Homo sapiens: one gene and its partners. The protein of the gene in region 4 interacts with the protein of the main gene of each other region in a pairwise test. Each region holds a gene or a part of one and is shown on either strand. Other genes may lie near its edges.

The links.
Region 1: the proteins of PTPRR (region 4) and LMTK2 interact in a two-hybrid assay, tested with the Homo sapiens proteins (one study listed by BioGRID and IntAct).
Region 2: the proteins of PTPRR (region 4) and RET interact in a two-hybrid assay, tested with the Homo sapiens proteins (one study listed by BioGRID and IntAct).
Region 3: the proteins of PTPRR (region 4) and ROR1 interact in a two-hybrid assay, tested with the Homo sapiens proteins (one study listed by BioGRID and IntAct).

What each region holds. Positions count from the first base shown.
Region 1 is NC_000007.14:98,109,611-98,117,708, forward strand, and holds part of LMTK2 (serine/threonine-protein kinase LMTK2 precursor), read left to right. Parts: intron 1-8,098. UniProt on the Homo sapiens protein: Phosphorylates PPP1C, phosphorylase b and CFTR.
Region 2 is NC_000010.11:43,079,723-43,087,820, forward strand, and holds part of RET (proto-oncogene tyrosine-protein kinase receptor Ret isoform a precursor), read left to right. Parts: intron 1-8,098. UniProt on the Homo sapiens protein: Receptor tyrosine-protein kinase involved in numerous cellular mechanisms including cell proliferation, neuronal navigation, cell migration, and cell differentiation in response to glia cell line-derived growth family factors (GDNF, NRTN, ARTN, PSPN and GDF15).
Region 3 is NC_000001.11:64,133,750-64,141,847, reverse strand, and holds part of ROR1 (inactive tyrosine-protein kinase transmembrane receptor ROR1 isoform 1 precursor), read right to left. Parts: intron 4,480-8,098; coding exon 4,352-4,479; intron 1,740-4,351; coding exon 1,422-1,739; intron 1-1,421. UniProt on the Homo sapiens protein: Has very low kinase activity in vitro and is unlikely to function as a tyrosine kinase in vivo. Receptor for ligand WNT5A which activate downstream NFkB signaling pathway and may result in the inhibition of WNT3A-mediated signaling.
Region 4 is NC_000012.12:70,910,307-70,918,404, forward strand, and holds part of PTPRR (receptor-type tyrosine-protein phosphatase R isoform 1 precursor), read right to left. Parts: intron 1-8,098. UniProt on the Homo sapiens protein: Sequesters mitogen-activated protein kinases (MAPKs) such as MAPK1, MAPK3 and MAPK14 in the cytoplasm in an inactive form.

The DNA of each region.
Region 1 (8,098 bases), on a different chromosome or scaffold from region 4:
GTGGGAGCCTGTAATCCCAACTATTTGGGAGGCTGAGGCAGGAAAATTGCTTGCACCCAGGGAGCGGAGCTTACAGTGAGCCGAGATTGTGCCACTGCATCATAGCCTGGGCAACAGAGTGAGACTCCGTCTCAAAAAAAAAAAAAAAAAAAAGAAAGGAAGATGCACAATCAGACATAGATATTCAGGGGCTTGTCTCTCCATCCAAAAGAGTTTATTGATCCTCGTTAGCTGAGGTGGGTTCTTGACCAAGATATATTAGACCAAGTTTAAAAAAAAACCTTTAAGCTAATCCTGACTAGTGAGCTCGCTGGTTAAAAAAGAGGAATCCCGCTTGACCATGTATGGTAGATAAAAGAGCAGTTACACGCCAAAAACCTAACTAAAGCTTCTGGTAATCTAGGAGCCTGCACTCCTTGTGAAGATAGAGCTAGACACTTTCAAATAAGGATAGACCCATTTCATAGGGTCTTTCGCCTCCTTGTTCTTCTTTCTGCTTGAAGCCTGATCAGTCTATCCAGTTTAATGGTGCCTTAGAGAAAGCATGCAGTTAACTGAAATTCAGCTTTTAAACTGAAGATCATTTATCTATGGTGTCTTCATCATCTAGATTCATTGCTAGACTCAGAAGCTGAAAAAGATATTTTCTTATTCAGTCATAATAAAGCTATGTAAATATATAGATTGCACTTGCCCATCAGGCAAGAAGGCATTTCTTGGTTGAACTTTATTTTGGGCCTCTTCTTTGAGCTGGGATGCCGTTTTGCCCCCTACGCCCGCCCCGTCTAGGAGCCTCTTTTCCTGAGAATCTGTGTTTCTGTAAGGGCCCTTGTTGTTATGTAGACTAAGACTTGTTGGTCCTCTCTAGGAAGCTTTTATGTAAAGGGAGAAAGTTCACTGTTTTCACACCCAGTTAAATTGCCAAACTAAGATTACAGTTCAGTTCTTTTCCCCAGATCATAGTTATCAGATCATTCTTCTCTTAGAAAACATGGATGCGCCTTTTCTAAGATTCTCAGGATTCACATCATAAACGGGGACTAGAAATAAAGAAAGATCTTGTATATGTGAACGAATTTCTCTAAGCTCACACTTTCTTATTAATATTAGGATAGTGGTGAGACAAGGAAACCCAGTTCTATTGTTCTGCAGCATATTAGGTCACAGAGTACAGAGGAAGCTTTTAGCAGCTCCAGATAAAGGACCTCACGGAAGCCCGTGAAGCCAGTGGGACTCAGCTACTGATTAAACAGCAGCTTGTGAAACCGAGCCTCTCGTTTTAGATTAAACAAACAGACTTGTATTTTGAAAAAGATTTCTAAAGTAAAGGAAATGCTTTCTAAAGTATGAATTACTGTGTTTAACAGCCTCTGGGAAAATTATTTTCAACAGGCTTTCTATGCAAATTATTTTAGGATTTATAGCTATAAATCTTGAAATTTGATTTTGGTTGGGATTGCTGCAATTACTTTTACTTGGTGATATTTTGGGGTTAACTAAATATGCTCATTTGAACAGTAATAGGAAGTCCGTCTGCAGTTTTGTAGCTGATTAGCACTGAAGTTATCAAATCCTTACAGTTTTGCTGATAATCAGTGTGCTGAGTGTTCCTGCAAATTCTCTTAAAAATTTAGAGTCCTTGGGCCCTCTCTGGCCCCTGTGTATTGTGTCACTTAGATAACAGCTGTAGATATAATTTTAAAAAGACACTGTCATATAAATAAGGGACGTCCAGGGTTCTGAAACAGTAAACAAATGAGTCCTCAAAAAAGTTCTTGTAAATGGACATATAGAAATAATCCAACTTTTTCGTTTAGTTGAGAGTAAAATTCATGAACCAATCCTAGCTGGAACAGAGTGTTGTAGGAAGAGCTTGGGCTTTGTAGTGAGATCTGGGTGTGAAGCCTTGGCTGCCGCTGGAATAGCTTAAGGACCCTGGGTCAGTTACTCGACCTCTGGGCTTAGAACTCCATCATTAAAAAGGGTGGCAATGACAATATTTACCCAAAGGGTTGTGGGGGGCACAGTGGTGTACCCTCTCACACTAGATTGCTTCATTGTTTCAGATTTCTTTGTAAATTTGGTTATCATCAAATTGACTAATGGCAGGTGGTATGGCATCAAAGCAGGAGCTCAAAGTGGTAGCTGCGTAACATGGCATGTCTAGAATTTACTGGATTTAAAAAATCTTTGTTGCTCAAAATAACTTTTTTATGGTGGATGGAGATGCTTTAGAGAGAAATCTGGTTTATTTAAGTCTAAGCTGGTATTGTTACTACTTGAAATTCGTAGTGTTGGAGAACTATGCTGGAAATTTTTAGGATCATCTGGGTTAGTCTGCTTTTATGTAATAAACCTGTTTTTAAAGTGGAAGATGACTAAAGCTCTTGCATGTGAACAGATGCTGATTTTAATTTATTTAAAGGAATCATGAGCACTTGAAAGTTTTTCTTGATCTTAAACACAATTGTGTATTGTCATGAGGCATCCCTGATTAACCCAGGTTGTAGTAGAACAAGCCCAGAGCTGATGCTTTCTCTTAGAAACCAGAGAGATGAATGTGACTGACGTTTTTCTTTCTCCCTCTCATTTTTCTTTTTTTTAAGAGACAGGATCTTGCTCTGCTGCCCAGGCTAGAGTGCAGTGGTGCGATCATAGCTCACTGCAACCTCCAACTCCTGGCCTCAAGAGATCCTCCCATTTCAGCCTCCCAAAGTGCTGGGGTTATAGGCATGAGTCACTGCACCAGGCAAGACTTGGTTTATCTGTAAAACGGAGAGAATAGTTACAGTCTTGTGAAGGTCCAAACCTGTGTTGTCTAGTACAATAGCCACTAGCTCCCTGTGGATGCTTAAATGTAAACGTTTTAGAACGAAAGCTTCAGTTCTTCAGTGGCACTGGCCACAAGTTAAGGGCTTGATAACTGCAGGTGGCTGGTGGCTACGGCATTGGACAGCACAGAAGAGAACTTCCCATTATGGAAAAAGGTTCTGTGGGACAGGGCTGGTGTGAGGCAGGTACAGTGCCCAGTCCTTGGTTAGGACATGTAAGGCCAGCTGTGATTATAATTATGATCATGATCCTGATTCTTCGTGAACTCCCAAATCTAGGCCCATTACAAGGGTGAGGGAAGTGAGAAGAGGGCTTTGAAAAAAGAAAGAAGAAAAGACAAAATAATTGTGGAGTTTTTGCTGGTGAAGAGATGAGAACTGAGGTAGCACAACCTCAGCTCCCCACTGCAGAACAGAAGAAAGAGACTTCAGGGAAAAACAGTCTTGCTCTGTCACTCAGGCTGGAGTGCAATGGCACAATCACAGCTCACTGTAGCCTCAAACTCCCAGGCTCAAGCAATCCTCCTGCCTCAGCCTCCTGAGTAGGTGTGTGTCACCTACAGACACTTACCTGTAGGTGTGTGACTACAGGTGTGTGCCACCATGCCCACTTTATTTTTTTGTAGAGATGGTGATATGGTTTGGCTGTTTCCTCACCCAATTCTTATCTTGAATTGTAGTTCCCGTAATCCCCATATGTCGTGTGAGGAACCCCATGGGAGATAGTTGAATCATGGGGGTGGTTACCCCCATGCTATTCTTGTGATAGTGAATGAGTTCTCACAAGATCTGATGGTTTTGTAAGGACTTTTCCCCCTTTGCTTGGCACTTCTCTCTCCTGCTGCCATGTGACGAAGGACATGTTTGCTTCCCCTTCCACCGTGTTTATAAGTTTCCTGAGGCCTCCCCAGCCATGTGGAACTGTGAGTCAATTAAACCTCTTTCCTTGATAAATTACCCAGTCTTGAGCGATTCTTTATAGCACTGTAAGAATGGACTAATACAGCTGGCGTCTCACTGTGTTGCCCAGGCTGGTCTCAAATTCCTGGCCTCAAGTGATCCTCCTGCCTCAGTCTCCAAAAGTGGTAGGATTATAGGTGTGAGCCACCGCACCTGGCCCTTTCTCATTTAAAATCATGTGCTTTTATAGTCGACTAGCAGTGCTTTATTACTGTTTTAAAACTTTGTATTTACTAAAATGAGGGAAGGAATATTCTCGGAGGAGATGCTGGACAACCATCTCTGATCTAGAAGACTGCTCCCTCTAGGGATTTTAGATTCCATTATCAGCTTTTCTTTGAATCTTCTTATGAAGATACTGTTGCAGAAAACTGGGGAAGTTATGGTAAAATTAGCATGTCTGCAGAGCAAAATATTGGATTGATGTCTTTTAAAATTGTAGCAAGTGGCTAATTCGGAGCCCTGCCTTGGCATTACAATTGTTTGTCACAAAGAGCAGGCATATCAGAAAAGTAACCTCATTATTAAATTCTTTTTTTTTTTTTTGCAAAAGTTAGCTCAGTGCAGTGATTCCAAATGTCATTTATTGTATTGTGATTCAGGTGGGAAAAGTGAGCACTATTTATGCCAGATGTCTCAGGTACCCGCAGCCACAGCATTGATCAGTATCTTTCATTTTCTCTGCCTTTTTTTCCTTCCCCAACCACAAAAGAGTGACTCTGTATTCCTCTGCCCACCTGGGCCTTTGGTAGGAGGGGGTGGTGGTGGTAAACCTTCTGTTTAATTTTTGACAATTTGGTAGGTAGGTTTTGCATTTTATTATATGTGTTTTTTTAAAGTTTTTTTTTTTTTTTTTTGAGACAGGGTCTTGTTCTGTCACTCAGGCTGGAATGCAGTGGTGCAGTCATATTCACTGCAGTCTCTACTTCTTGGGCTAAAACGATCCTCCCACCTCAGCCTCCTGAATAGCTGGGACTACAGGTGGATACCACCATGCCTGACTGATGTAAAACATATTTTTTCTATAGAGATGGGATCTCACTATATTGCCCAGGCTGGTCTCAAACTCCTGGACTCAAGTGATCCTCCCACCTCAGCCTCCCAAAGTGCTGGGATTACAGGCATGAGCCACTGCACCTGGGTAGTTTTAATATTTTAAAAGGCTTGAGTTACCATCAGGTCAAATTAGGTGTGCAGGACCTTGTGCTATGGCTAAAGTAGCCCCTGTCTCCCTGCATCTGGTGAAGGGAGACGGTCGCATCGGGGTGTCTGCTGCAGCGCATCTGTTGTTGTTCCTGCCTCCACCCTCCACAGCACTTTTTTCAGAGCTAACTTGATCTGCCTATCGCTTGCAAAATATTCCATGCAAATTCCCATCTTCTGGCTCTCCATATATTCTCCCTGTTTGCAATTGCCTCTTTTCCTGCTTCTGTAAGTGCTGCCATCTTTTTATTTTTTTTAAAACCTCTTTGCGGACCCACCTTCCCTACTGAGTTATTGATCCTGGCCCAGCCCTTAGAGATTCCTTCCCTTGGTGAACTTGAGAGTGTATACCTGTGGAGCAAGATGTTTCATGGGGTGCCAGACGAAAACATTGGAACTGATGTTTATTCTCATTTCATCCTCTTAAAAGGTCAACTTATGTGATGTTTTAAGGTATAGAATGTGTGGTACACTAACACATTTTTTGATTTATAAATGACATGGGACGGAAAGAACATAAAATGTACTGCCTGGGTACAGTGGCTCATGCCTGTAATCCCAGCACGGTGGGAGGTCGAGGTGGGTGGATCACGTGAGGTCAGGAGTTCAAGACCAGCCTGGACAACACGGAGAAACCCCGTCTATACTAAAAAACACAAAAATTAGCTGGGTATGGTGGCACACTCCTAAAGTCTCAGCTACTCAGGAGGCTGAGGCAGGAGAGTCGCTTGAACCCAGGAGGCAGAGGTTGCAGTGAGCCGAGATCATGCCATTGCACACCAGCCTGGGCGACAGAGCGAGACTCAAAGAAAGAGAAAAAGAAAGAAGAAAGAAAGAGAAGAAAAAAAGAAAAGAAGGAAGGGAGGGCGGGAGAGAGGAGAGAGAAATTACTGCTGGCTGAAATCAAGAAAGGTTTGGTTTTGGGCCGGGTGCTGTGGCTCACACCTGTAATCTCAGCACTTTGGGAGGCCGAGGCGGGCGGGTCACGAGGTCAAGAGATTGAGACCATCCTGGCCAACATGGTGAAACCCCGTCTCTACTAAAAAGTCAGCTGAGTGTGGTGGCGGGCACTTATAGTCCCAGCTACTCAGGAGGCTGAGGTTGAACCCGGGAGGCGGAGGTTGCAGTGAGCTGAGATCGCACCACTGTGCCCAGGCCTAGTGACAGAGCAAGACTCCATCTCAAAAAAAGCAAAAAAAGAAAGGTTTGGTTTCATCATACCAGTCTACTACTTGCACTTAATAAATACCAAATACCACTTTATATCTTCATATCATTGGTTTTTTGTTTGTTTGTTTAAGAGACAAAGTCTTGCTCTGTTGCCCAGGCTGGAGTGCAGTGAACTGTCATGGTTTACTGCATCCCTGAACTCCTAGGCTCAAGCAGTCCTCCCATGTCAGCTCCTGAGTAGCTGGGACTATAGGCGCATGTAACCATGCTTGGCCAATTTTTACTTTTTGTAGAGATGGTCTACAAAAGTAAAGTTGCCATGTTGCCCAGGCTGGTCTCAAACTCCTGGCCTCAAGCAGTCCTCTGGCTTCGGCCTCCCACGGTGTTGGGATTATAGGTGTGAGCCACAGTGTCCGGCCTACATCATTGTTTAAGTCCTGTCTCTTTACCTAGTTTGCAAGGACCGTGTCTTATATCCTTGGGATAGCACATTTTTGGGATTGGTGTTTGGATGGTATGTCACAGGTTGTAGATGCTCTGTCAGCATTTGTAACTGAGGATGATGAAGATGATACTAGAGAACTAAGTTCTCCAAACCAGTACCTCAGTGTGTGTCTGTGTGTGTGTGTGTGCATGTGCGTGTGTTTGTGCGTGTGTGTGTGTGTTTGTGTCCGCGTGTGTGTGTGTGAAGGAGAGGGTATGAGCTGAAGCCTCTCATTCTCTTGCGGACTTGACTTCCCATGCAGCCACAGACCTTCACCTGGGATGAGGCCATTTATAGTTTTTTTTTTATTAAAACCTTTTTCTTTCACAACAATTTTAGATTTACAGAAACATTGCAAAGATAGTACAGAGTGTTCCTGTGTATCTTTTACCCAGTCCCTGTTGTTAACATCCTATATTAATGTAGTACATTTGTCACAACTAAGGAACAAGTATTAATATATTGCTATTAAATAAGTCCACAGCTTGTTCAGTTTCTTTAATATTTCTCTAGTGTCTTTTTTTCTCTTCCAGGAAACCACATTACATTTAGTAGTTATGCCCCTTGGGCTCCCCCAGTCCATTCCTTGTTTAGAGTGACCTGGACAGCTTTGAGGAGTACTGACTGGTCAGATATTTTGTAGAATGTCCCTCAACTGGGATTTGTCTGATGTTTTTCTCACGATTAGACTGGGGGTGTGGGTTTCTGGGAGGAAGACCACAGAGTTAAAGTGCCATTCTCATCACATCACATCAAGGGTGTGTGCACACAACATCACACAGCATGACTTGTCACTTGATCACCTGGCTGAGTAGTGTTTGTCAGCTTTCACCCTGTAAAGTTACTCTGTCCTCCCCTCCCCATGGTGTACGAGTGCAGGGTCAACACTTAATGAGTGGCAAGCTGTGCTCCACCTCTTTGCAAGGAAGTGTCTGTAGACATTCTTTGGAGTTCTGTTGAAGAGACTCGCGTATTCTCTTCTTTTCTTTTTTTCTTCCTCTTCCCCTTCCCTTTCCTTGACAGGTCTTGCTCTGTAGTCCAAACTGGAGTGCAGTAGCACAGTCATGACTCACTGCAGCCTTGAACTCCCGGGCCCATGCGATCCTCTGTTTATTTCTTTATTCAAGCATTTACTTATGTCAGTGTGGATGCATGGATATTTATTTTATACTTCGAGTTGATTCCACAGTGTTGTTTATTTGTTCTTACATTGTACCAGCTTTGGCCATCGAGAGCTCTTTCAGTTAGCTCCTGGGTGCCCCGCTGACATATCCTCATTTTTTTTTTAAGCATTTCCTTATTTTCTGGCATTTCAAGAAGCTACAGGTTCATCTTGTATATTCCCTGCCCCAGTCCTAGAATCAGCCTTTTCTTCAAGGAGCTCTGGTTCCTCTGATTGGAGAGTGATATGAGAAACCAAGATCTGGGCCAGGCGCAGTGGCTCATGCCT
Region 2 (8,098 bases), on a different chromosome or scaffold from region 4:
CTGGGCACTGTGACTTGGCAGGGCCCGGATCCAAGCTGCCAGACCACCCTCTGCAGAGGGCCTAGGCAGCCCACCCCTGCCTGAAGCACCAGGTATCAGCGCGGGCAGCTCAGGCCAGGGGTACAGCTCCCCCTGCTTCATCCTTTTCCTTCTCCCCTTTCTCTGGCCAGAGGCTTCACCAGGTTCACCTGGGCCTGGCTTGCTTCCTCCTCCACTCCAGCTCACTAACCCTGTCTGGCCTCCAGAAGCTGCCTGCAGCCCTCACTGGTGGGCTGTGCCTGCTGGGGGCCTGCAAGCAGAGAGCAAATGGGGAAGTGCATTGAGCTGATTCACTAAATTGCCTTTCTTCTGCAGAATCACTTTAGGGACAGGCTGAGGAAATCACTGTTTCCTTGGTGGTGTGAAGAAAATGGGATGCGATCACCTAGCGGGGAGCTAATAGCCTTTTAGCCAGTGGAGGAGAAAACCAATTAAAAATTATGATATCTGTTAAAATGGAACCTGGGGTGCCAAGGGGAAGGGAAGGCCCGGAAGCTGCCATCTCCCCTGAGACCTTCCCCCTCTGCAGCCTGGCCGAAGACCCTCTAGGTCCCCTCGTCTTAACTGGATAAGGCTAATACCAGCAGTAGCACCCCATGGGGGCTCACAGTGCACTGCCCCTGTGCTGTGCCTACTCACTTCATCTTTTCCAACAAGTCTGCAAGGGTCATGGTCTTGGCCCATTTCACAGGTGAGGAAACAGGTTCTCATAGCCTATGGACTCGAACCGGTAGAGAGGATGCGGGAGCTCCCCAGCCCTGGCCCTCTGGCTTGCTCCAGCCCGTTCTCTGGGCCAGTGGTGTGGGTCCAGGGTGGGGCTAAGGAGGGCTTCCAGGGAGGTTGCCCTGAGCCTGCCCACCCACTGGTGAGTCCCCCCACCTCGGGCTCCAGGTGCCCTCAGGACATCCCAGCCCAGATCCCAGAGTAATGTGTGGCACCATGCACAGACGCTGAGATACTCTCTGGGTCTCGTCAGCTTTAGTTGATGTCTGGGAGTCCTATGGGTCTGGGGAGGAGCACCAGGCATGGCTGTGCCAGCAGAAGGGCCGACTGTGTGTGCTCTGTGGATGGCAGGAAGGCATCTTGCTGCCAGTGGCGGTGCAGATGTTCGGCTGGGACACCAGGCTGTGGCCCTTGCAGCCAACATATGCCTGAGGCCCTGGCATCGGATGGAAGCTACTGCTCTGAAGACAAGGGTGCAGGGATGGGGTTTGGGCATCAGGGATGGGGGTACAGCTGTGTTTCCTCATGCAGGACAGGGCCTTCCTCCTCATTTTTCCCATCCTCCAGGACAGCCTGGGAGAAGAAAGCCAGGGAATAGGGGCAAAGCAGGGTGCAGCCCCCCATGCTCCCTGCTGCCCTCCTCCCCTCCTGCAGAGGCACTTCCTTTCCACTTCAGGAGCCCCTCCCCCAGAAGTGGGCCCCCCCCATCCCCCCTTCCTTCTTTGGAGGCTGCTTCCTGGTGCCAGGTTATGCTCCCTCCCCGTTCTCTGCTGTGCCCTCTATCTCCCCACTCCTCTGCAATTATTTTTCAGCAGAGTGACTTAATAGTAACAATAACAGTAACAATAATAGTAACAACAGCAGGCTGGGAGCACTCCTGAGGGAGCCTCGGCTCCTGCCCTGCTGCTCTAGGGCTGGGGACTCTCCAGAGCTGTCTCATGGCAGGGAGAGACCGTAGTCAAGGAGACCCTGTGTAGGGACTTCCGCATGCGTGTGTGGCAAGGGGCGGGGACTGGGCAGTGACCACCAGGCAGGGAGCACACCTCAGTCATGGTCACAGAGAAGGTGATGATGGCACCAGGGCTGTCTCTCCGTGCCCGTCTGCACCTGGGCCTGCCAGAGCCGTCTTCTGTGCCCCATGGGGTAGGGGAGCACCCCATGGCCCCTGGGAGGCTGCCAGTCAGTGGGACTATGAGGTCAAATGGGGAGGTCCCTTGGGGTCCATGACCCAGGCACTGCACCCCTTGGGGCTGGAAGGGGAGAAGGCCCCAGGCCCACCAGAGCCCCTCTGGCTCCCCCACTAGAACAGCAGCCAGGGCCGGCTCAGGGATTGAGGCGAAGCCTTGGTGCTTGATTCTTTGTCCCCTGAGGCAGGCTGTACCTCTCATAGGAGAACTTTGGAGGACGGGCCTTCTCCTGACCAAGGCTCTGGGACACTTGGCAGCCCCTGAGGTCCTGCTTTACCTCTCTGCTTTCTCCCCCCTTCTCTGAGCTCTGGGGCCAGGCCTGGGCACTTGGATTGGCGCTGAGACAATGAGGCCTGAACCTCCATGGAGCTCTGGTCCCGCAGCTGTGTGATCATGGGGGCCTCAGGGACCCCGCTCCCCTCCATTCCCCAAGCCTAGAGGCCATGAAGCCTGTGGGTCCCTGAACTGTCCACCCTGAGACTGCAGGCAGGGCAGGGCTGGGCAAGAGCAGGCAGCAAGCTGTCCTTGTTCCCACAGCTCCTCCTGGCTGGGCTCTTGGCCCCTGAAAAGCCTGGGGCAGGGAGATGGTGCCAGCAGGACCTTAAGGACAGCAGTTCAGGTCGCACCTGGCCCTGGAGGGAGCAGGTGGCCAGCTCCAAGCAAACACCTCTGTTTGCTTTTGCCTCAAGGAGTGGCTCCACAAAGTGTAGCAGCCCAGGCACCACCACAGAAAGGTCACCGCTGCACCTGGACAGGTGTGCGCCTACCTGGTGGACCAGCGGGCATAGGCTTTCCTCCCTGATATCAGGGATACCTGGAGGGCCTGGTGCTGGGGCTCTGTGCTCAGGGGAGAACCTGTGGCCCTACAGCCCCAGGTTCTAGACCCCCTCCCAGATTCGGGTGCTGCAGCTGCGCTTCCACTCCTGGCCCTTGCTCCTCTGTGCTGCTGCTCTCCATGCCCTGCAGGAGCCAGGGTTCCAAGGAAGCACCTGAGGGGCAGTGTGGCCCCAGGGCAGGAGCAGGACAGTGGCCACCAAGCTGTTTCCAGTTCCCTTGTGTGCCTGTGACTCCAGAGGATTCTCGCCCTTGTGTTCCTGAGAGGGAAAAAGGAAACATGTATTTCCTAGAATTTAAGTAATGACTGGGGAGATGTGTGCTCTGGGTGCCGGGACGAGGGTGGGTGAGCTGGAGGTGCAGCATGAGCTGGTGCAGTTCTGGAGGGAGGGAGAGGGCTCATTGGGTTTCTTCCTCATACTACTTGGCAGTGCAACTGGCACAGACCCGGCAGCTGTTGCTGGGCTAGGGGCCAGGGGCTTCCTCTTGCTCTGTTCCCCTTCCTGCTCCACCACCATTGCCTGTAGGGCGTCTGCCAGCCCCAGGAAGCCTAACACTTAGCCCAAGTGGGGCTCTGGGCCTGGCCCTCCTCACCCAGGGAAACAACGGGGCTCATGGGCGCTTGGTGACATGGGCACATTGCTCTGCCATCGTAAGGGGCCAGCCTGGCTATGGGACCCAGCACCGGTGGGCAGCCCACAGGTTGTCTCTGCAGGAGACTCCTCTGGCAGGTCACATACAGGATGCCCCACAGCACCTTGAAAACTCGTGACCCGGGAAAGCCTCAAATTGTCTTTGCTCCCCTAGCCTCCCCACCACCTGTATATGCAGGGGCATGTGAGACTGTACTTGGTGACAGGAATGCCCCCCAGTCTCAGGGGCTTAACGCCATCTACTATGTCCTTCTTGTGGCATAGCCTGGCATGGCCCTTACCCACTGGGTGGCCACACCTCCCAGCCCTTGTGCCTGGCTATGTGCACAGGAGGGCACAGAGCTTCAAGAAGCCTGAGGCTTAAGGAGCTTTGAGGCCTGGGAGGGGGCCACCGTCACTTTCCCTGTGTTCCGTGGGATCCTGTCACATGGTCGTTCTCACCCCAGGAGGCTTCAAGTACAGAGGACGCGGGGATGGGGGCACGCAGGGGTGTACCTGCACACACTTCTGCCTACCAGCTCTCCATCCCTTGTCCTGGTCCACATAGCAGGGGCTCCTGGCGGGCCCAGCAGCTGAGGGGGACAGAGGGGGAAACAGGGTAGCAAATAATTATGGTTTACTCTTTTTTAATTGTGAAATTTGTGTAACATAAGTTTAACCATTTATAAGTGAACCATTTGGTGGCATTTAGCACATTTACAGCATTGAACAGGCATTGCCTTAGTTCCAAAAAATTTGCATCACCCCAAAAGGAAACCCCATACCCATTAAACAGCTGCTTCCTGTCCCCGGGCAACCCCCAGCCTGCGTTCTGTCTCTGCGGCTTGGCCTGTCCTGGAACATTTCATCTGCATGGACTGTTGTCTGGCTTCACTCAGCATAAGGTCTTCAGGGTTCCTCTAGGCTGTGGCACACATCAGCCCCTTCCTGTGAGGGGTAAATAGTGTGCCGTCACCCATTCATCTGGGGATGGACACGTGGGTGCTTTCCACCTTTTGGCAGTTATGAAAAATGCTGCCAGGGACATTCCTGTTATAAATACCTGAGTTCGTGCTTTCAGTTCTTTTGGGTACATACCTGGACATGAAATCGCTAGGTAATTCTGTTTTATATTTTGTGGAGCCGCCAAACTGTTTTCCACAGTGGTTGAATTGTGTTACATTCCCAAGGGTTACAATCTATCCACATTCTCACCACCACGCATTATTCTCTGTTATTCTCTGGTTCATGTCTCACTCTGGCCGTGCAGCCAGTGCACAGTGCTAGCTCGTTGTGGCTTTGGTTTGCCTTTCCCCGGTGATGGCGTGCTGGGCATCTTTTCCTGTGCATGCTGGCCAGTTGCATGTCTCTTTGGAGAAGCATCTCTTCGAGCCCTCTGCCTGTTGTCTAACTAGATGGCTGTCTTGCCATACAGCTGACTTTGCTGTTGCATCTGCATCAAGAGCTGCAGAGAAGCAGCTTTATCCAGGGCCGTCACTGTCAGTGATTGAGCCCCAGGTCCCTTGTGAGGAGAGTGTGGATTCGTCTGATTCCTCACATGGGCATTGAATCACCACTGCCCTCGAGGACCTTGAGGACATTCTCGGAAGACCTGGACTCTGAGGCCACGTTGAGCACCAACATCTGGAAACCATGGTGTCACTGCTTGTGCATAAGAAGGGGCCTCTCAGGAACCGCCCTGTGAAGGATGGAGGAAGGGGAAGGTGCAAGGAGCCAGCAGACCCCCACCCCACTGACAAGACGAGACTCAGCAGCAGGGGAACCAGGGCCGCCCTCTCTCGCTCATCCTGAACCCTGACTCTAAAAATAACCAGGCTGATAATCGGATCCGCTGTAAGTTGATTATCATCATTGCCGTGGTGTGATGTCATGCTGCCAGGCCCTGGGGCAGTTTTCTCAGGACAGCGGTGGATGCACCTAGGCAGCTCTGGAGGCCAGCATGGAGCTGGGGGGCCCTGAACCGAGGGTGGCAGGCAGCCTCTGTGGGCTCCTGCAAATCTGCTTGGTGGGGGTGGAACACTGGCATCCATAGGCAGGCACTCTGTGCTCCCAAGGAGGAGTTCCTGTCCCCATTCGCAGCTAGGGACAGAGCCAGGGAAGCCAAGTGCCCAGCCCTGGCAAACAGCGGGGAAGCACAGGGGCATGGGCTGGGCCGCTCTGCCCTGCGTTTCTGCTCCTTCCTGCTGCTGAACTCTCTCCTTTCTGCTGCTGAACTCTCTCCTTTGGACTAGGCCTTTGTCTTCTTGCCTCATCGTCAGTGGCCTGGGAGGACACTTGCAGTCTTAATCCTGTTTTGGCCCCATGTCCCTCACCCCCCAGGGGCCACCTAGGCCAGAGCCTGTCCTGATTTCCATCTCGGCCACCGTCTGCCCCTCGGCCCCTGGTCAGGAGCTCATTCTGTGGATACTCCTGCATAGACATCACGTGGACTCAAAGGGCATGAGGACCTCGGCTGAGAGGAGCTTACACATCAGTGCAAACCTCTCATTTTACACAGGGAGAAATCGAGGCCCTGAGGGAGGCGTGAGTTGTCACACATGGGGGTAGTGTCAGATGAAGACTTGGCACCACTTCCCTGGGCATCCCCTTCCCTGCATGGCATCCCCAGCCTTGGGTTTGGATTCTTCTTCACCCTTGATGTTGAGGTCTTTGCTCCCAGGACCTGGATAACAGCATCCAGATGCAGGTGGTGCCCCCGCATCGGGCTGCCTGGCTGTGACCTGGGGCATCAGGATTGTCAGCTTGTCTGGCCCCAGGTCTGTGCTGGGCTGAAACCTACTGTCTCAGAGGCTCCTGGCTCTCTCCCTCTGCTCTCCACTGCTCTTAAGAGCAGACCCTCAAGCCTTTTTTGTGTCCTCTCTCCAGGGAGAGCCCAGCTTCTACTCTGCAGCCCAATGCAGAAGGGGTGGTAGCTCACGGTGCCTCGGCTTCTCTGCATGCCTGTCACTGAACAGAGAAGCCCAGGCCAGACTGCAGCTTAATTCCTAGCCTCTGTGTGGCCTCCAGCAGGGTACCTAAGCTAGTGCTGCCTCATTTTCCTCCTGTGTGAGATGGGAATCCTCATGGTCCCTACCTCTGACAGTTGTTTTGATGCAGTGGGTGATGCAGATGAAGCGCCCGGAGCAGACCTGCTCATGAGGAGCACACCGTGGATTCCTACTGGTTAATGTTGAACAGGGATGAGAAGGGGCTGGGGTAGGGCGAAAATGGGCAAGACCATCTCAGCTTGAGGAACATGAGCTGACAGATTGACTTAAATTTGCACATGGACATGATCTGAGTCACTGCCTTGCTGAGTGCATGGGGACAGTTGCCCAGGCCAGAGGCACCAGGGTCAAAGCCAGTGGTGATGCCCTGGCCCCGTTGCCCCAGGCCAGGGCCAGTGAACAATGTAATCAGCTGGGGCAGACTCTACAGCCCTGCAGCCAAGGGGGCCAGTGACCCTTACATGGTCATCCACAGGCCACTTGGGTGGCCAGTCCTGTTCAGCCAGGCCTTGCCCTAGGAAAGAAATTAATTATAACCTAATTGGCAGTTTCCTTTGCATAGAAGCCGGAAGCAACTGCCAGTGAGGCTGGTGATTAACTCTGCAGCAGCTGGGAAATTGCAGTTGGGCAGGAGCGCCCATCATCCTGGCCAGGCCGCTGCAGCTGGTCTGGGTATGGAAGTGTGGGTGGTGGCCATCGTGCAGCTTAGGGCCTGGGCCCCTCAGAGCAGAAGGCTGGGTCTGTGTGCAGAAGGTAGCCTTGGGCTGCCAGGTCCCCCAGTGCCCAGTTGCGGACCTCCTTCTCCCAAACCTCAGCCATGCCTGGACCCCTTCCCCACTCACGGCAGAAGGCTGCATGGCTTTTAGGGGTGTCAGGAGGCTCATGTCCTGGTTGCAGTTCTACCATGGGTGTGCAGCGGGAATTCTGGGCTTCTGTTTTCTGGCATGGGATGGGGTGAATGATATCTCTGTTCTACAGCAGGGGCTCAGACTGGATGTGTGAGAAGAGCCTCAGTTAAGGAGGGCCATGTTCGTGCGTGCAGGGATCGTGGTGCCTCCCAGGCCAGGGCCGGGCCCCATCTCTCCTCCTCCTCAGCTGCTCTTCCAGCTACTGGCCACCCTGCCTGGCTGGAGGTCCAAGAGGAGAGGTATCTGAGGAGATCCTGCACTCCACACCGGGTCTCCTGCCCAGCATTTTGGAAGAACCAATTCTTAAGTCTGGTACTGAGGCCGCACTGCCATGATGATAACTGGTGTCACCAGGACACCAGGGAAGGAGCTGCCCTTGGTGTTTACTGAGCGCCCGGTATATGCACTGAGCTGTCCATCATCTGCAGAGACCAGTGTTTTCTTGATGGTTTTACAGAGAGATGCTTAAACCCAGTGAACTAAGAATGGGACAGGCTGTCAGATTTTTCTCAAAGGAGGTATTGACTTGTTAGCGGGTACAATTAGGCCGAGGAACCAGGGGCTGATGCAGTGTGCTCCCGAAGAGGGGCTTCTATGGACTCCAGTTACCAGAGCCTGCCCCAGGATTTTCCTTCACACCTGCTCTTTATGCCAGGGATCAAGCAGGGTTATAAATACAACAGCGGGCAGGATGAGCCAGTGGTGGCCCTGTGGGTCTTCACAGCCCAAATTTCCTTCCATGGTTAGTGTAGGTTAAACCTGGCAAA
Region 3 (8,098 bases), on a different chromosome or scaffold from region 4:
AAGCACTGCAGAATCTACACAGTCGAACTGAACTGGAGTTTGGAGGAGTAATGACAATAATAATAATGTTGCTACTGAGCCCTTACCATGTGTTAAGCATTTTAGATGCACTCATTTACTTAACTCACAAAATAGTATTAACGATCAAAAGGAAACTGAAAAATTGCCGGTGAGATTAATTCTAGATGAAAGGGAAATGTACACTGAAATAGTCTTTTGCGTGGTGCTGCTGATGGGGTAGGGGATGGAGGCAAACCCATCTATATCTTTAAAATGGCGGTATGATATGGTTTGGGTCTGTGTCCCCACCAAATCTCATGTTGAATTGCAATCCCCAGGGTTGGAGGTGGGGCCTGGTGGGAGGTGACTGGATCACGGAAGCAGGGTTCTTGTGAATGGTTTAGCACAAACCCCCCGTGGTACTGTCCTTGGGATAGTAAGTTCTCATTCTCATGGCCGTTTAAAAGCATGTGGCACTTCCCCACTCACTCTCTTGCTCCTGCCATGTAAGAAGCTTGCTCTCCGTTCACCTTCTGCAGAAGCTGCTATACTCCCTGTACAGCCTGCAGAACCACACGTGAGCCAATTGAACTTCCTTTTTTTATCAATTACCCTGTCTCAGGTATTTCTTTATAGCAATGTGAGAATGTACTGATACATGCTATAATACACTTACCATTACATGTACCATTAGTGCATTTATTTAGTTCTTTCACAATATTGTACAACCTTCACCACTATAGGTTCTAGAACACTTATATTACCCTAAGAGGAAACCCCATATCTATTAAACAATCACTCTCCACTACCCCTAGCCTGGCCCCTGGTAACCGCTAATCTGAATTCTGTCTATATGGATTTATCTATTCTGGAAATTTCATATAAATGGATCATACAATGGTGTCTGGCTTCTTTTACTTAGTATAATGTTTTCCAGGTTCATCCAGGTTTGTAGCACGTATCTGTATTTCATTCCTTTTTATGGATAAATAATGTTTCACTGTCTGGATATACCACAATTTGTTTAACCGCTCCTCTACTGATGGCATTTGGGTCATTTCCACCTTTTGGCTATTGTAAATAGTGTTGTTATAAACATTCTCATATGAGTTTTTGTTTGAACATCTGTTTTCAGTTCTTTTGATTACATACTCAGGAGTAGAATTGCTAGGTCATATAGTAATTCTATGTTTAAGTTATTGAGAAACCAGCTCCAATATTTTAAAATTATTGTCTTCATGAAGCTTCTTGAAGATAACTATGTCTAATCCACCACTGAATGCTCAGGCACAGTACTCAGCCCATTGGAAAATAATTTGATTAACAGTATGAAAATCACTATGGGTCAAGGTCCAGTTTTCCCTGTGCCAACAGGTTGCTGACCCTTAGAAGAGCACAGAAGGTCAGGGGCTACCACTTACTTTTATTTATAGGATCTGCCATGGGAATTCCAATCCGGATACAGTTCGCAGCTTCTGGGCTCTCTGGCTGGGGGAGATCTTCACAGTTTGGCAGTTTCAGCCTCATCAGAATCATGGGATTTGATCTTGCAAAAATGTACTCTGTTTGACACAGGACATTCTCCAGGATTTCACATTCATCGCGACACAAGTCACGGGGCTTTGGGACGGATGAAGTTTCATCGCAGTACGGGAAGGCATAGTGGCACAGGGAAGGAATGGCGAACTGAGAACACTTATCAGATAAGTGACTGGAAGTGCCAATCATAGTGAAGGCAGCTGGAAAACAAACACAATTATTAACTCCCAGAGGCCAGGGTTTATCTTCTTTGGTTATCTAGTCAACGGATATCAGATATAAACACACATTGCAAGGAATCCGCCGTGCTGAAACAGACAAGGCCCAGAGAAGGAGATTCATTTCAGATGTCTAAGCAGCTTACTTTCACTGGCTTGAAAAAAACCATTTTGACTACAAAGTTAATAAAACAGGATTAAATTACATATGTACCATTTCCTAATAAAAAAATTAATTAAGTTAAAGTACAATATATTTTTCATTTTTTACTACAAAGCAATCGAACTTTGTGTTTCATCTGGTGCTTTTTATTAGTTTTGTGAGGCTTCTAAAACATTTGACAGCTGTAGGGACAGAACTTGTTTCCGCAGTGGCTGAGCCTGAGCACAGGATCCAGTTCTGTGTCTTGCTGGACGGCAAGAGTTGCTGGATGACTTAGGGTAACTTGCTTAATTTCTTTGTGGCTGGAATACTTTCTACTCCATCTTCTGAAAATGAGGCAACTCACTTGGAAGTTCTCAAAGAGCACAGTACAATTGTTCCAATGTGTATCATCGAATATTAGTGGTTCCTTAGCTTAATCTCTTACTAGTAGGGTAAGATGCACAAAAAGCGCACCAGCCTACCTTTGAATACCGCTATTGACAAGGAGCTTACACCTCACAAGGAAACCTAGGAGGTTGCTGATACATTATTTCCCCAAGTATGTTGCTCAGAACATTAATCATGTGAAATAGAATAGTGCTTGAGAAACAAGCCAACAAGTTTGGGAAACGCTGGGATAAACAAAGGTAAATGAATTTAAAAAAAAACTTTCCACCAGGCTGATACCCATTAGAAATCTCCAAGAGAGGATTTTTATAAATAGGTTACCAATTATTTACATCAAAACTTCCACTTTTTTTTTTTTTTTTTTTTTTTTTTTGAGACAGTCTCACTCTGTCGCCCAGGCTGGAGTGCAGGGTTACGCTCTCAGCTCAGTGCAACTTCTGCCTTCCAGTTTCAAGGGATTCTCATGCCTCAGCCTCCCACATAGCTGGGACTACAGGCATGTGCCACCACACCCAGCTGATATTTGTATTGTTTTTTAGTAGAGATGTGGTTTTGCTATGTAGGCCGGGCTGGTCTCGAACTCCTGGCCTCAAGTGATCTGCCCACCTCAGCTTCCCAAAGTGCTGGGATTACAGGAGTGAGCCACTGTGCCTGGCCCAAAATGTCTACTTGCTTTTGTGGATATTCAGTTAAAAGTACATTAAGGCATTCTTACATTAGGTTGAAATGGGTGTTTAACAGCTCCTCCCTGTCAGTCTTACTGCTCTTTGAAATTTCAGAATTCTCTTCCTGTTGAAATGAGGGCTTCAGAAAATGGCAACTACCTATTCCTACAGTTGCTTCTTTTGGTTGGTTAAAAAGTCCTCCAGGAGGCTGATGCAGGAGAATGGCATGAACCTAGGAAGCAGAGCTTGCAGTGAGCCGAGATCGCGCCACTGCATTCCAGCCTGGGTGACAGAGCGAGACTCCATCTCAAAAAAAAAAAAAAAAAGTCCTCCTCCCTCTTCCCCCCAGCCTCCTCTCAGTTCCTTCACATTCCTCATAGCACATAGCTTCCACATAGCTTCTGGGCCTTTTGCTGTTCTATGTTTCTGCCTTGGGTTTGTTCTTACCTCTCCTAGACCCTAGGGTTGCCAGATAAAGAAAAAGACAACGGTTACATTTTAATTTCAGATAAATATTTATGACATACTTATACTAAAAAATTATTCGTTGTTTATCTGAAATTCAAATGTTACTGGGTATCCTGAATTTTTATTTGCTAGATATGGCAACCTCATTAGAATGTCATGAAGACAATGTGAATGGATTGCAAAGGATACGTGACACAGAGGCATCATAACTACACTAATGGAAGGGGACAAAGCTGCTGTAACCACCAGAACGATGCGTGCAAAATCCTATGAGGCAGCCTATGCTACTTTAACTCATGTGTGCTAGTAAGTGCTTCGCTATTAGATTTCTATCAAAAGGATACTTTCAATTAAGAAAAATGAAGAGTGAAATATTGAAAGCTAGAGCAAGAAGAGACCAATGGTCATCTTGCTTCATCACTCATTTCACAGATGAAGAAGGGGACTTTTTGGGAAAGTAAGCGATTTCCCCAAAGTTCACTGTCATAATAGTTCTGGGATGAGTGTCCAGAACTCTAAACTCTAAATTCATCCCCTCTCAGTCGACATCATGTTGCTTCTAAACAGTAAGCTCTGTGAGGGCAGAGACGTACCTGGCTTATTTACACACCATCACCTCTCCCATTCAGATTCAGTTCCTGGTACGGTGAAAGCACTTAATAATATTTATTGAGTGTTTGAATGAATGTGAGATTTCACAAAGCTTCCTTTTCCTCTAAGAGCAACCTTCAATAAATTACTTTAATGTAAATTCCAGAGCACAGAGATCATGTCTCATGCTTTTTTATGGTCCTGCTCCCAACCTCCATGCTGAGCTTAATCCTTTGTCAAGAGAGGAGCTCAATAAAACTTTTGGCGAGAAAAATAGTTATTCAAGGGACAAATATAATTTCATTGGTGCTACCTACCTGTGATCTGATTTTCTATTTCCCCTTGCATGTGCAAAGACTCCATATAGACGGTGCGGTTGCCAATAAATCTTGCACATGCAATCCCTCTGTATGGCTGACAGAATCCATCTTCTTCATACTCATCTCTGAAAGAAAGCATAGACAGACATTAGCTGATGCACCACATACATACAGGGCACAGCAAGCTCTGACTGCGCGATACCCTAAATAGTCACTAGGGGGCACAGTTGGGCACAATATACAAAAGACTGGGCTAAGGAATTGGGCTTTTGCTCAGTTCTTAAAACATCTGTTGGTCACATTGGTCAAGTTTCCTACACCCCCAGAAAGTCATCCTGAAGCACAAAATCATCCTTAAATATGGGAGAAAATGCTTTTATTTTCGCAGCTGGTGGTGGGCTGGAAGATGATGTAGTTATAGGAGTAAAGAGGAAATGAGTTGGAAATCTGGGCACATGTTCTACAGTTTTTTGTTTTTTAAGCACAGATTATTTCTGCTTCATTTGCTACAAAGGCGTGGGCGAACAGATCCACTCCAACTGACACGTCAATTAGGGGGATCCATGGGGTGAGAAGCTGGGTGCAGCTGGAAAGAAACCCGAGGGTAGCCCAGTTAGGTGACTCTTCACTGCTGAACCTCCATTATCTCTACCCTGCCCAAAGAGGACCAGGGCAAACCATAGTCTGGAGAGTTTGAATTGAGTCACTAAATCCAAGGAAATCTAGAGAAAATGTCCATGGAAAGTTTGCTTTCATGCTTCTCTACAATTTAAAAAAATAGTCTTATTAAAATTTTGCGGCCTCAAAATTATAAGACTTTTTTTATAAGGAGGGGTAATAGATTTCATCTTGAAGACAGAGGGACACCAGAAATGACATGATTCATGTGCCAGGTAAAAGGACTGGAGATCTAAGGCTGGAGATGAAGACCCAAGATGGCAGGCTCAACCTGAAAGGGCAGAGGCTACCATCTCCCACGAGGGCCTACGATGAGCACAAGATCCCTCGAGTGCAGAACATCCAGCTGTTTCTCAAAGGCAGACCATAGCCAAACCAAAGTCTGCCTGCCACGTGTATAAGTTGACTTCAACCCTGGATGCTCCTCCTCAATATATCATCTCAAAAAAAAAAAAAAAAATACACCGTTTTTCCCCTTTGGTTTCTTCTAAGTAAAAATCCCTCAGAGCAAAGTCAGGAGAACAAAATTCTCTTCCTGAGTTTAACATTTGGGCATCCTTAGGCAAGCTGTCTGAGCCCTCTGAGCCACAATTTTCTCATCTACAAGTTGGACACAGTAACTGACTTCTCTGCCCTACATGGGAAAGTCATTATGATCCCATCAGATAATGTAAAAGCTTTTTTAAATTGTAGAGATAATATATGGCTATTCTTAAAGTATTTACAATGACCAAAGGGACATTTATTTAAAAGACAGTTATTTACTAAGCTCCCACATCGTAAGAGGCACTGCGGTTAGTGCTGTGGTGCTCACTTCCCAGCTTGAAGGTCTAGCGTAGGAGTCTAGAAAGTCAAAGTATAGGAGCAAACCAAGTGGAAAAATCACCTGATAGGACACTAATTTTCTGCTTCTCTCTACTCCCATTCATTAAAAGAATCATTTTAAAGGTGAAAGTGGGGGAAGTATCTTCAGTTTAGTACTGAAAATAGTTTGTGTTGCAAAGCTCTTAAAAACTTAACCTTTAAATACACATACAAATGAATATATCATATACCTGACATAAAGACATTGAAATTTTACTGTTGCACAATCCTGCAAGCACTCCACATGTTTACTTTCATAAATCCTAGAGTAATGCTGAAGCCTTTTTGGCTTAAATTTTACTTGGGTTGTAAAATTAACCCAACTTTTATTGGGTAACTAATACCATAAACCTATGGGGAGAAAGAAGGTTCTTGATGACCCACACTTGGATCTTGGAAACCTAAGTACAGAGACCAGAATACACCCCCATGCCACCCCCCTGCTATTACAGATGATGCTTTTCTATCCCTAGGCATTAGCAGAGCCCTGGATTTTTAAGGTGTCATTATGAGAACACTTCTTTCTCCCCCACATTAAACTCTCAAGGCTTCAATTTATATCTCTTGGGAGGACAAAACCCTGGAATTACCCCCAGATATAAATCCCCAACCTACTGGGAGTTCCCATATTTTATGTGTGAGGCTTAGGCTAAACTTCTTACCACCTTTCCAGTTCAAGACTCTTAAAAAGACTCTTTGAATACTTTTTTTCAGAATAAAATGGAATGCAATTCCTTGGCTGCACATTTCTTATCAAAGGCTTAGAACTGCAGGTGTATTAAATTTTTGACTATTCCCAGAATTCCTACTATCCTGTTCAGTCTCCTGGGAGACAGATTTTTTAAAAAAGAACACAAAAAAACCCCAAAACCAGTATGTACTGTTATCTGCTGGGGAGTGGTTCTGTCTTGGCTCCTTATGAGAATCGCCTTGGCAGCACACTGGGAGGCCGAGACGGGTGGATCATCTGAGGTCAGGAGTTCAAGACCAGCCTAGTCAACATGGTGAAACCCCATCTCTACTAAAAATACAAAAATTAGTTGGGTGTGGTGGCAGGTGCCTGTAATCCCAGCTAGTCAGGGGGCTGAGGTAGGAGAATCACTTGAACCCAGGAGGTGGAGGTTGCAGTGAGCCAAGATCATGCCACTTCACTCCAGCCTGGGTGACAGAGTGAGACTCCATCTCAAAAAAAAAAAAAAAAAAGAATGAAAGAATCTCCTTGAGAAGCTTTAGGAAATACGAATGCCCAGGCCCCACCTTAGACCTATTAAATCATAGTCTCTGGGGATGAGGCTTAGGTATCTATGCTTAAAGAAACCTATCAGGTGATTTGAATGTGGTTGAGAACCACAACACTGAAAAAAACCAAACATGTATTAAGTGTCTGCTGCTCTGGGCTGGGTACTGTGTTAGGTGCTTTCTTCAAAGCAGCCCCTGATGAGCTATTATCCTTATTTTACGAGAGAGAAACTCAAATTCAGAGAAGTTAAGTAACTTGCTCAAATTCACAAAGTCAGTCTGTGGTGGAGCTAGGATTTAAACTGAAACTCAAGATGAGGCCACTATCCCATGTTGTTAGATCTGTAACTATGTTCTGCGTTTCAATACTACTCTTAGTTAAATCAGCCTACTCGAGAAAGAGACCTTATAACGAGTCTTGATTCTGTATCAGATACTGCTAAGTTTTATATACTTACAAAACAGATACTAAGTCATTTTATCCCAACAACAATCTTATAAAAAAAGGTAAAGATGTAATTATTCCTGTTCTACAGATGAGAAAAGTGAGACTCAGAAAGCATAGAGAACTTATCCAAAGTTACGCAGCAAGTAGAAGAGCTAGATTTGCTCTAAATAGTGTTTCTAACCACACTCTATAACTTCTTTCCAAGTGGCTTGGCAATGGAGTTTTTGCACTGCTTAGAGGGGCTTTCTGCTGTGGAGAAGCTTTGGTGCATTCTGGGTGGTAAAAGGTTTTCTTTTAAACATAAAGTCAAAAACACATTTCTTTCTTTTCCATTTTTCCCCACTGGCTTTGGCTGGAGGGGAACAAATGCTCCTCCAGCATTAATCAGCTTTATGCTTTTTTCCAGCTCACACTTCTTTCATCATTGATGTCTTCCTGCCTTACTCCATGCTCAGCAAATTAAAAACATGAAGCAAGTGGCAAGGTAGCAAAAGTGCAAGGGCACTTGCAGTGAG
Region 4 (8,098 bases):
AAATGTTTTTTTGTTTGTTTGTTTTTATTGTACTACATGAGTTAAGGCATATTTTTGTTGTTTCTGAAGTATAAGCATGCCATTTCAAAACATTTTTCAATCCTAAAAGGTAAGGCAATTATCTTACAAAAGCACCTTGGGTAGAGTTTAGCACATCAAAGGGATTTAGGAAATACTCATTTGTTATCTCCTTCCTGTCTTAAAAGGAAATCTATTTGTCTTTTCCATATGAAATTCAATGCTTGTCTTGAGAGGAAGACTTTTTATTATGTTTCTGTAGCTTCAGTTAATGCTCAGATTTAGGAGTTACAAATAACATGATAAAATTTATAATTTAAGCCCTCTAAATATCAGGCATTCCCAGTTTGAGGAAATAAAACAATCAAAAGTAACCAATGAATGCCTGATGGGAAATCCTGATGCTCTAGAGGTACAGAGGTTCCCAGCAATGCCAAGAGACATGCCCAAATGCCCAAGGGGACCAGGCTTGTGAGGACTCATGTGAATTGCCCTAGTGAGCTTCTTAAATGTCATGAAATTTTCAGAGGCACTGAAAGAGCTGCCAGATGTGTCTCTGGATTTGCATAGAGAAGTGAAGCATCATGAAAAAGTTTCTATAACTGAATTCTGAGTTTTCTTGTGAACTATGGGTCTCCAAGGGAGTCAAACTGAAGCTATAAATAATAGGTCACCTGAGGTAAAATCAGCAGCGAGAAGAGTCCTGGAAAAGCAGGGTCAGCTGAGTAGCCTGGGTTTTAGGGGAGTGGTGAGTAGTTCAATGAATAGGTTGTGGCTGCATGTGACCTTTTCCATTATGTTCTTCCCATACCCATGCCCCTCCTTCTATCCCTTTACATTCAAACACCCCTGTCTTGGCTGGTGTCTGCAGAACCACAGGCAGCCTTCCACATGGACCTACAGCCCAATGGTCTAGAAATTCCATGGGCTACAAATGGTAAATAGGATAGTATCAGTTGGTCAGTAGAGAAGAAGGATGGCCAGAGGAGTAGACAACAGATGGGAAGCCTATAGACCTATGAGCAGCATCCCTCGTCCATGCTTGAGCTTTTCACCCTTTGTGGGTCCCTAGAGGGATTAATTAGGAAGATGTATCCTAGGACAAGTCTAGACTGCCTGCTAAGCAAGGCAGTGCAGTAGGAACTAGGCACTTCAGATTTATGATGTTTATGTAAATGTTACACATTTTCAGTCACAATCAGGCATATCCAAGAGAAATTTTTATTTCACATTCATTTAAGTAGAACTTGCTGAAGACATGATGCTAGAATTCATGTTTAGATGAAACTTTTAGAAAAGGCATTGGGAGAGATATCTGCAGGGAGGTAGATATTTTCGAGCTTCATAGTCCACTACAAACCTGCACATATGGTCAGGCTCCTGCCTATAGCATACAGATGAAAACTATCAAGAAAAGGCTCAACTGAAAAAAAAAAAAAAAAACCACTCAGAATCCAGAATGTATCTAGGTGTGTATGCTTACCCAGTATTGGCATAAACATAAAAAGAATAAGAAATTCCTCCAAGGTACAATTAACCATTTATCATCTCCTTAGTCTAATCACGTAATGCCTAACACTTCTATGACACTCTCTAAGACTGCAAGTTTGGATATATTATCCCACTTAACTCTCAACTACTATGGAATTCTGCTAAAAAGTTATCTAGAAACATGACATTTCCCCTTGTTTAAATTTTCTCCTTTCTTCTGTTTAAGCTACTTTATTTTCTTCAGGGAGAATTTTAAAAATACCACCTTGAATCAAGAAGACAAAGAAACTAAATTGCTTATGATTGAAAGCCATACATTTACATTAATGGATTGATGGTCTTTCAACCTAACTAACTCACTATGATATTATGTTTGATCATTTTTCCCAGATAAGTGAAAGTCACCCAGTGGTGAACTGATTCTGTGCATTTATTGCTTCCTTTTCTCTCCAGTATGCCTCAGGAATTGGATCATTAGTACAGTGAAATAGCTGTAGAGTCTTGCTCTGTACATATTGCTGTACAGTCCAGTGAATCACTGTGAGATGCTTTTACTCTGTGCTCATTAAATGCTCCTTTCCAAAGAATCAGTAGTTTAGGACTGCCTGAGGCCAGTCTTCTCATTTAAGTCAGAAAATGGACATTGCTTTAGATCTGAAAAAAAGGAAATAAAAAATAAAATAGAAATAGGAAAAAATAATTCATGTCCCCAATGAACTTGGCATTTGCTAAGTTCTAGACTGCTGCATAATATAAATAATAGTTTTGCTTTGTTGTTGGTCCATGTGGCTGCAATTTTAATGGACATCAACATCTTAATATATTAAAATCAAATGAGATTTGATTATGAGGAAAGTTTATGCAGTCATTATGAATAAAAATGATTTAAGTGGAAAGTGCTAATGTTTATAATATAAATTTGCTAATTGTCCTTTTGTGGCAAATATCATTACTATAGTAGGCACTTATAGTTACATTATATGGTACATAAGCATTAGGAAATTTGATCTTAAAATAATATTTTAGCATTACATCTTTATTTTTCGAAACTACTAACATCCTTTATGTTGGGAAACATCAATGCTACTCTAAGTGTGTCAGCATTTGTAAATGCCTTGAAGATGAAAAATGCACTCATGGGCCAAGTAGAATCTTTCAAATCCCCTTTTAAAGGAAAAAATGGCTTTCACTAGCTTTTGAATTTGACTCACAGAACAACTTTTAAGATTTAACAATAAACTTGCCATAAAATATAACATCCGTGTTATCTCTAATACTAATGGCAATGAATGGGCTTTTGATTTGTGATCTGATCATCTCACATAAAGCGATTTTTAAATAATTCACAAAATAGTCTCCATTCTTCAGGTGTAAGAATGTCTTCTATGAGAAAAAATATGTGGGATCCAAAAACTTTATGGTTCTATAAAGACTGTATACACACAAAATGAGAGAAAAAATGTATACAACCACTCAAATATTCAGACATTTTGTGTGATGATTTGGTTTTTAATTCAGAGAGAAAAGGAGGGTTGAATAATTTTTGGTCTTGATTTATTGAAGCCACTGTCTCACACTCCCACCTGATTTTGAATGTGTAAATGTCTTGTATTTGCTATAGGTAGATAATAACCAATCAGTAATCAGGGTTAGGAGTTCCGGGTCCATTCTGTAGTGGACAACTATCATGCTATGTTGTTTATCTAACTCTTTGAGCTCTTTAAAGTAAAAAAAAAATCTCATTCTATTCTTAAGTAGTACTGGAAAATCATGCAAGAATGTCTATCCATCTAGAAAGAGTTCAGCACACAAGTACACTACAAATAGCATCATGCCCATGGGACACAAACTTATCTTATGGAGTGTATTTACATAGAAAATTTTCTGTCCCATCTCCATTTCCTTGTTGTCAATAAGTGTAAATTGCACTAAGGTGGCAGTAGTAAAGTCAATTACCTTCTTTATGGTCATGAAGATGAGATATAATCTCTTGGTCAATGTAAATTAATTTATCACAATTCATTTTAACAAATATATTTAATATATGTATTCATTCATTGAACACTTACTGATGCCATATTAGGTAACAAGCATAGTTCTAGGGAATAAGTATATAGAAATAAAGCTGCAATTGTGTTATTGTTCTCAAAAAACTTCAGTATACAGGTTAAGTACATTGACAGGGGAATATACAGGATTGAAAAGGGAAATGTAGGAGAGCTACTTGAATGAGGTGAGTCATCCAAAAAAAAGAAGATTCTCAAAGTGGGCTATGCCTGATCAACATTTGAAGTTGGAGAAAGAGTCATCTAAAAAAAGGAGCAGAGTATTGGTATTTAAGAGAAATAGAACAGTATGTGAAATGATTCAAGACATGGCAAACCAAAGGAAATTTTGTCTTAGTGTGATATTAGTGTGCAAAGGAGGGCAAGATGAGAAGACCTCATCGCAAAAGACTGCCTTCCTAATGAGTTTGGAGTTTATTCTAAAAGAAAAGGAGATAGCTGTATTAAAGAATTTTTTGGAGAAAGAATATGATCAGGTATGCTTTTAAGAGTTTCACCTCCGACATTATTATAAAGAATAAATTTGATAGGAGGTCATCACAAGATATTATGTGAGAAATAAGGATCTGTCTCAAGGCAGTGACATGATCATGGAGAGTGGAGAACATCTTATGAGAAGAGTTTGAAACCTTTAAGATGAAAGTAGCAAAGGGATGATCTAGGATCAATTATTTGTTTCAGACCTGGGTCATTGTGAAGAATCCTGGTGTTATTCACAATGTTAGGGAATATTTATCAGAGTAATTGTGTTGAGAAGTGTTGAGTAAAAATAGTTGTATATAAGATTATTGTGGGGCCAGGTACTGTGGCTCACACCTGTAATCCCAGCACTCTCTGAGGTTGAGGCAGGAGGACTGCTTGAGCCCAGGAGGTCGAGGCTGCAGGGAGCCATGATTGCACCACTGCACTCAAGCTTGGGCAACAGAGTGAGGCCCTGTCTCTAACAACAACAACAGCAACAACAACAACAACAAAAACAAAAAGATTACTATGGAATATACAATGACTTCTAGGTAATTTTAAATATAGAACCAGAGTTCAGGGGAGATAACTGAGATGGAAATGTGGATTTTGGAATCTTTGACGTGCAAGTCTGAGTATAATTATCCAGGGAGATTGTATACAGAGAAAAATAACAAAAAATCAATGACAAGCTGTAGAGAGCACTAACCATTAAATAATACACAGCAGAAGACCTAAAAGTACAAATTGAGAAATGGCTGGAGAAATAAGAGGGAAGCTAGGAAGTAATGACTGTCTGTGGAAGTCAAGTGAGGAAAAATTTTAAAATTCAGAAAGGGGTCAAAATATATAAGTACTATAGAAATGCATTGATAACAAGAACATACATTACAATAACCTCTTTAATTATGTTCAACCATAGGATGATAGGATGAGGACGGAAGCTGATAGAGAAGTAGGTGAGAAATAAAGAAGAAAAGGCTGAATGTGCATAATGCATCCCAGAATTTTTACAAGGTGTTAGGTAGGATGTGATTTTCAATGGAATATGTGAGGTGCTATTCTATTGGAGGTGCTAGAAATATGTCATCTCCAATATACATATTCCTGTGTCTCTTAAGTACCAAAGAAGCAAATCAGTTTTTTCTAGTGTATTAGACTCTCTGTTTGTAAATCAGCTGATCCCTGTAGCCATTCCTACATGTACAAGGCATTTCACTGAGAAGTGAAAATGTAGCCAATCAGCAAAGAATTTGGGCTGCACAATATCTGGCAATCAGTTTGAAAGACTTTTTTCACTGAGTTGATTAGTAGTTCTGGTCTAACACAAACCCATCCTTTATTGCCCTTCAGTTCACAATGACAGCAAAATCTGTTAGAGATAGTGTGTTTTGGGGGCATGTGAGGCAACATGAGTTTTGGACAAATGAGCTGTTTAAGTCCATTCCAGAAGTGGCTAAGTGGACTATGTGTGTTTTTTGTGGGTGTTAAGAAGATATTAAATGCAAAAAGAAGAGACCAGAAATATCACTGTATTACATTATTTATTTAACTTATTTATTTAATCTTTAGAAAGATTTTATGTCAGGAACTGCCCCCAGGTACTAGGTAGCCCAAGACCTCTAATACATGCAATAATAAACAAAACAGGCAAAAATATGTGCCCTAAATGGGCTTACATTTTAATACAGAGAGGGGAAACTACAATAAAAAAAGTAAAATATATTGTATGTTGGGTGGTGAAGACCTCTGGGGAAAGAAAAGTTAGGCAGGGAAAGGGTGCTAGAATTTTTATCTGGGTGATGGGGGGAAGGGAAAATGAAATATGAAATAGAATAACCTCATTAACAAGGTAATATTTAATTAAAGTTCTAAAATTATTGTGGGATTAAGCTGTGGAGACACCTGGAGAAAGAAAAAAGCAAAACAGTATGAAAGGGTGAGTGCCTGGCATCTTCTAGAAACAGAAGGATAAATATGGCTGGAGAGAGGTAAAAAAAGAAGAAAGTAGTGAGAGATAATATCATAGAAATAATGTGGAGAGAGACTCTAGACCATTGTAAGGTCTATATTGAGTGATTTTCAATAGGAAAAACAAATTCTGGAGTTCTAAGGAACATCTTAAAATCTTAAAATATATCATTTACCTGTTAGTCTATCGTTTCTTTTGAGGGTGGTACTTCTGCAAATCATCTCCCAGATCTTCTTGGCACCATCATAGAATACCTTTCTTCTCAGAGACTAGAGAAATTGACTATGCACTTCTCTGAGAGATTTTCAATAGGAAAAACAAATTCTGGAGTTCTAAGGAACATCTTAAAATCTTAAAATATATCATTTACCTGTTAGTCTATCCTTTCTTTTGAGGGTGGTACTTCTGCAAATCACCTCCCAGATCTTCTTGGTACTATCATAGAATACCTTTCTTCTTAGAGTCTAAGGAAATTGACTATGCACTTCTCTGAGAGTGAAGAGATAGTTTCAGGAGATACATTGAAGGCAGTCTTTGTGCCATTCAAAAAGGCTGATAGCAAGAACAACACAGAAATTTGAAAGAACCTTTTCCAGAACTCAAAGAGAAAGCAATGGATTGAAATCAGTTTCTGTATTTTGTTAGCAAAACATTCCCTAGGAAAAAGAAAGCTTTCACATGAGAATTTTTAATATATCTCAAAAATGTACTCTTTTGCAACTAAAATACAACACTATAAATAATATCTCCTCAAATGGAATATGCTTCTTTGGACAAAGGAAGAGGAGAAATGCTGAAGAAAATAAGCTCTGTGGATCTTCCACATAATATTTTTTTACCATTCGTATTATTGTGGTGGCTTTTAATTGCCTCCTTGAATATTCCTGAAGTGGTATTTTCAACTGGAGTTTATATATTAAACTGGTTCACGAAAGAGTAAAGAATAAGGACAGTTAGGTAAAAAGTATTTTGCACCACTAACTTAATCAATGGTGGCCTCACCTATTGTAGAACCAGTGTATAATTTTATATAGTATGCAACCACGGGTCTGGAAACCTGGGCTTTTATCCCGACTATGCTATTAACTACCACTTTAATACTCTAGATCTTCATTTTCTCACCTGTAAAATAAGCAGTTGGATGGACAATAACCACAACTTCCTTGTTAGGTGATCTATAAAAATCGGCTGCCATGGGTAGAGTAGTGTCCAGCTTCTCTAACAAGAACCATGCTTAGTAATCCTTTAGTGTTAATTTACCCAGAGATGCCACTTACACAGCATGGTACCCACTCCTCATTTTTCTCCCACAGCTATTATAGACCACAGTACTTCTCCCTAGCCAGAATGCGAGTCATAATCTTCTTTTTCCCCCCGATGGTGTCTTAGGCAACCATAAGCAAAATAATGGGAGATGGCACTCAAGTTGCAAGCAGTTTGCTACTTATCATTACAGGCATGGTTATATTGAAGGCAACAGTTCCTAATATAGCTAAAAAGAACACTTACATCCCGTTAGCACATTCCTCCCATCTCTAAAGCATTATAAGGTGTCATCAGTTCCACCAGCATAAAGCAGTTGCTGATACCCTGGGCGTAACCAAAATGGATCAATTAGCTTTACAGTTAAAGAGGCCTGAATGTATAGAATTCATTTCCCTTCTTTATGAAGTCAGCCTCTGTTCTGAGAGAAAAGTCTTCCATAAAAGTAACAAACTCACACCTTCAACAAGTAGAGATTAATATCTTGATTTCTTGATCTTTGTCATCCCATCCACTTATTTTCTTAATCTCCAAATGTATAGAAGCTTAGACCAAGGAGCTGTGTTTGTTTTAGTTCTGATGAAAAGCCCTAACAATGTTATTAGATAACTGTGATAAATTTTAATCTGATGACAGCTTGTGACCCACAAATTGCTGTTTAAAATTAAAATGCATTTAAAATGAAATTGGCAAGAGAACTATAATATTAAACTTACAATCTGCTGTGATAAAACACCAATGTATTTTACTATATTAAATATGAATACAATGAATAGTATCTTGCAATTGAAATATAAAAATGTCCTTAAATGCATTTTCTTATTAA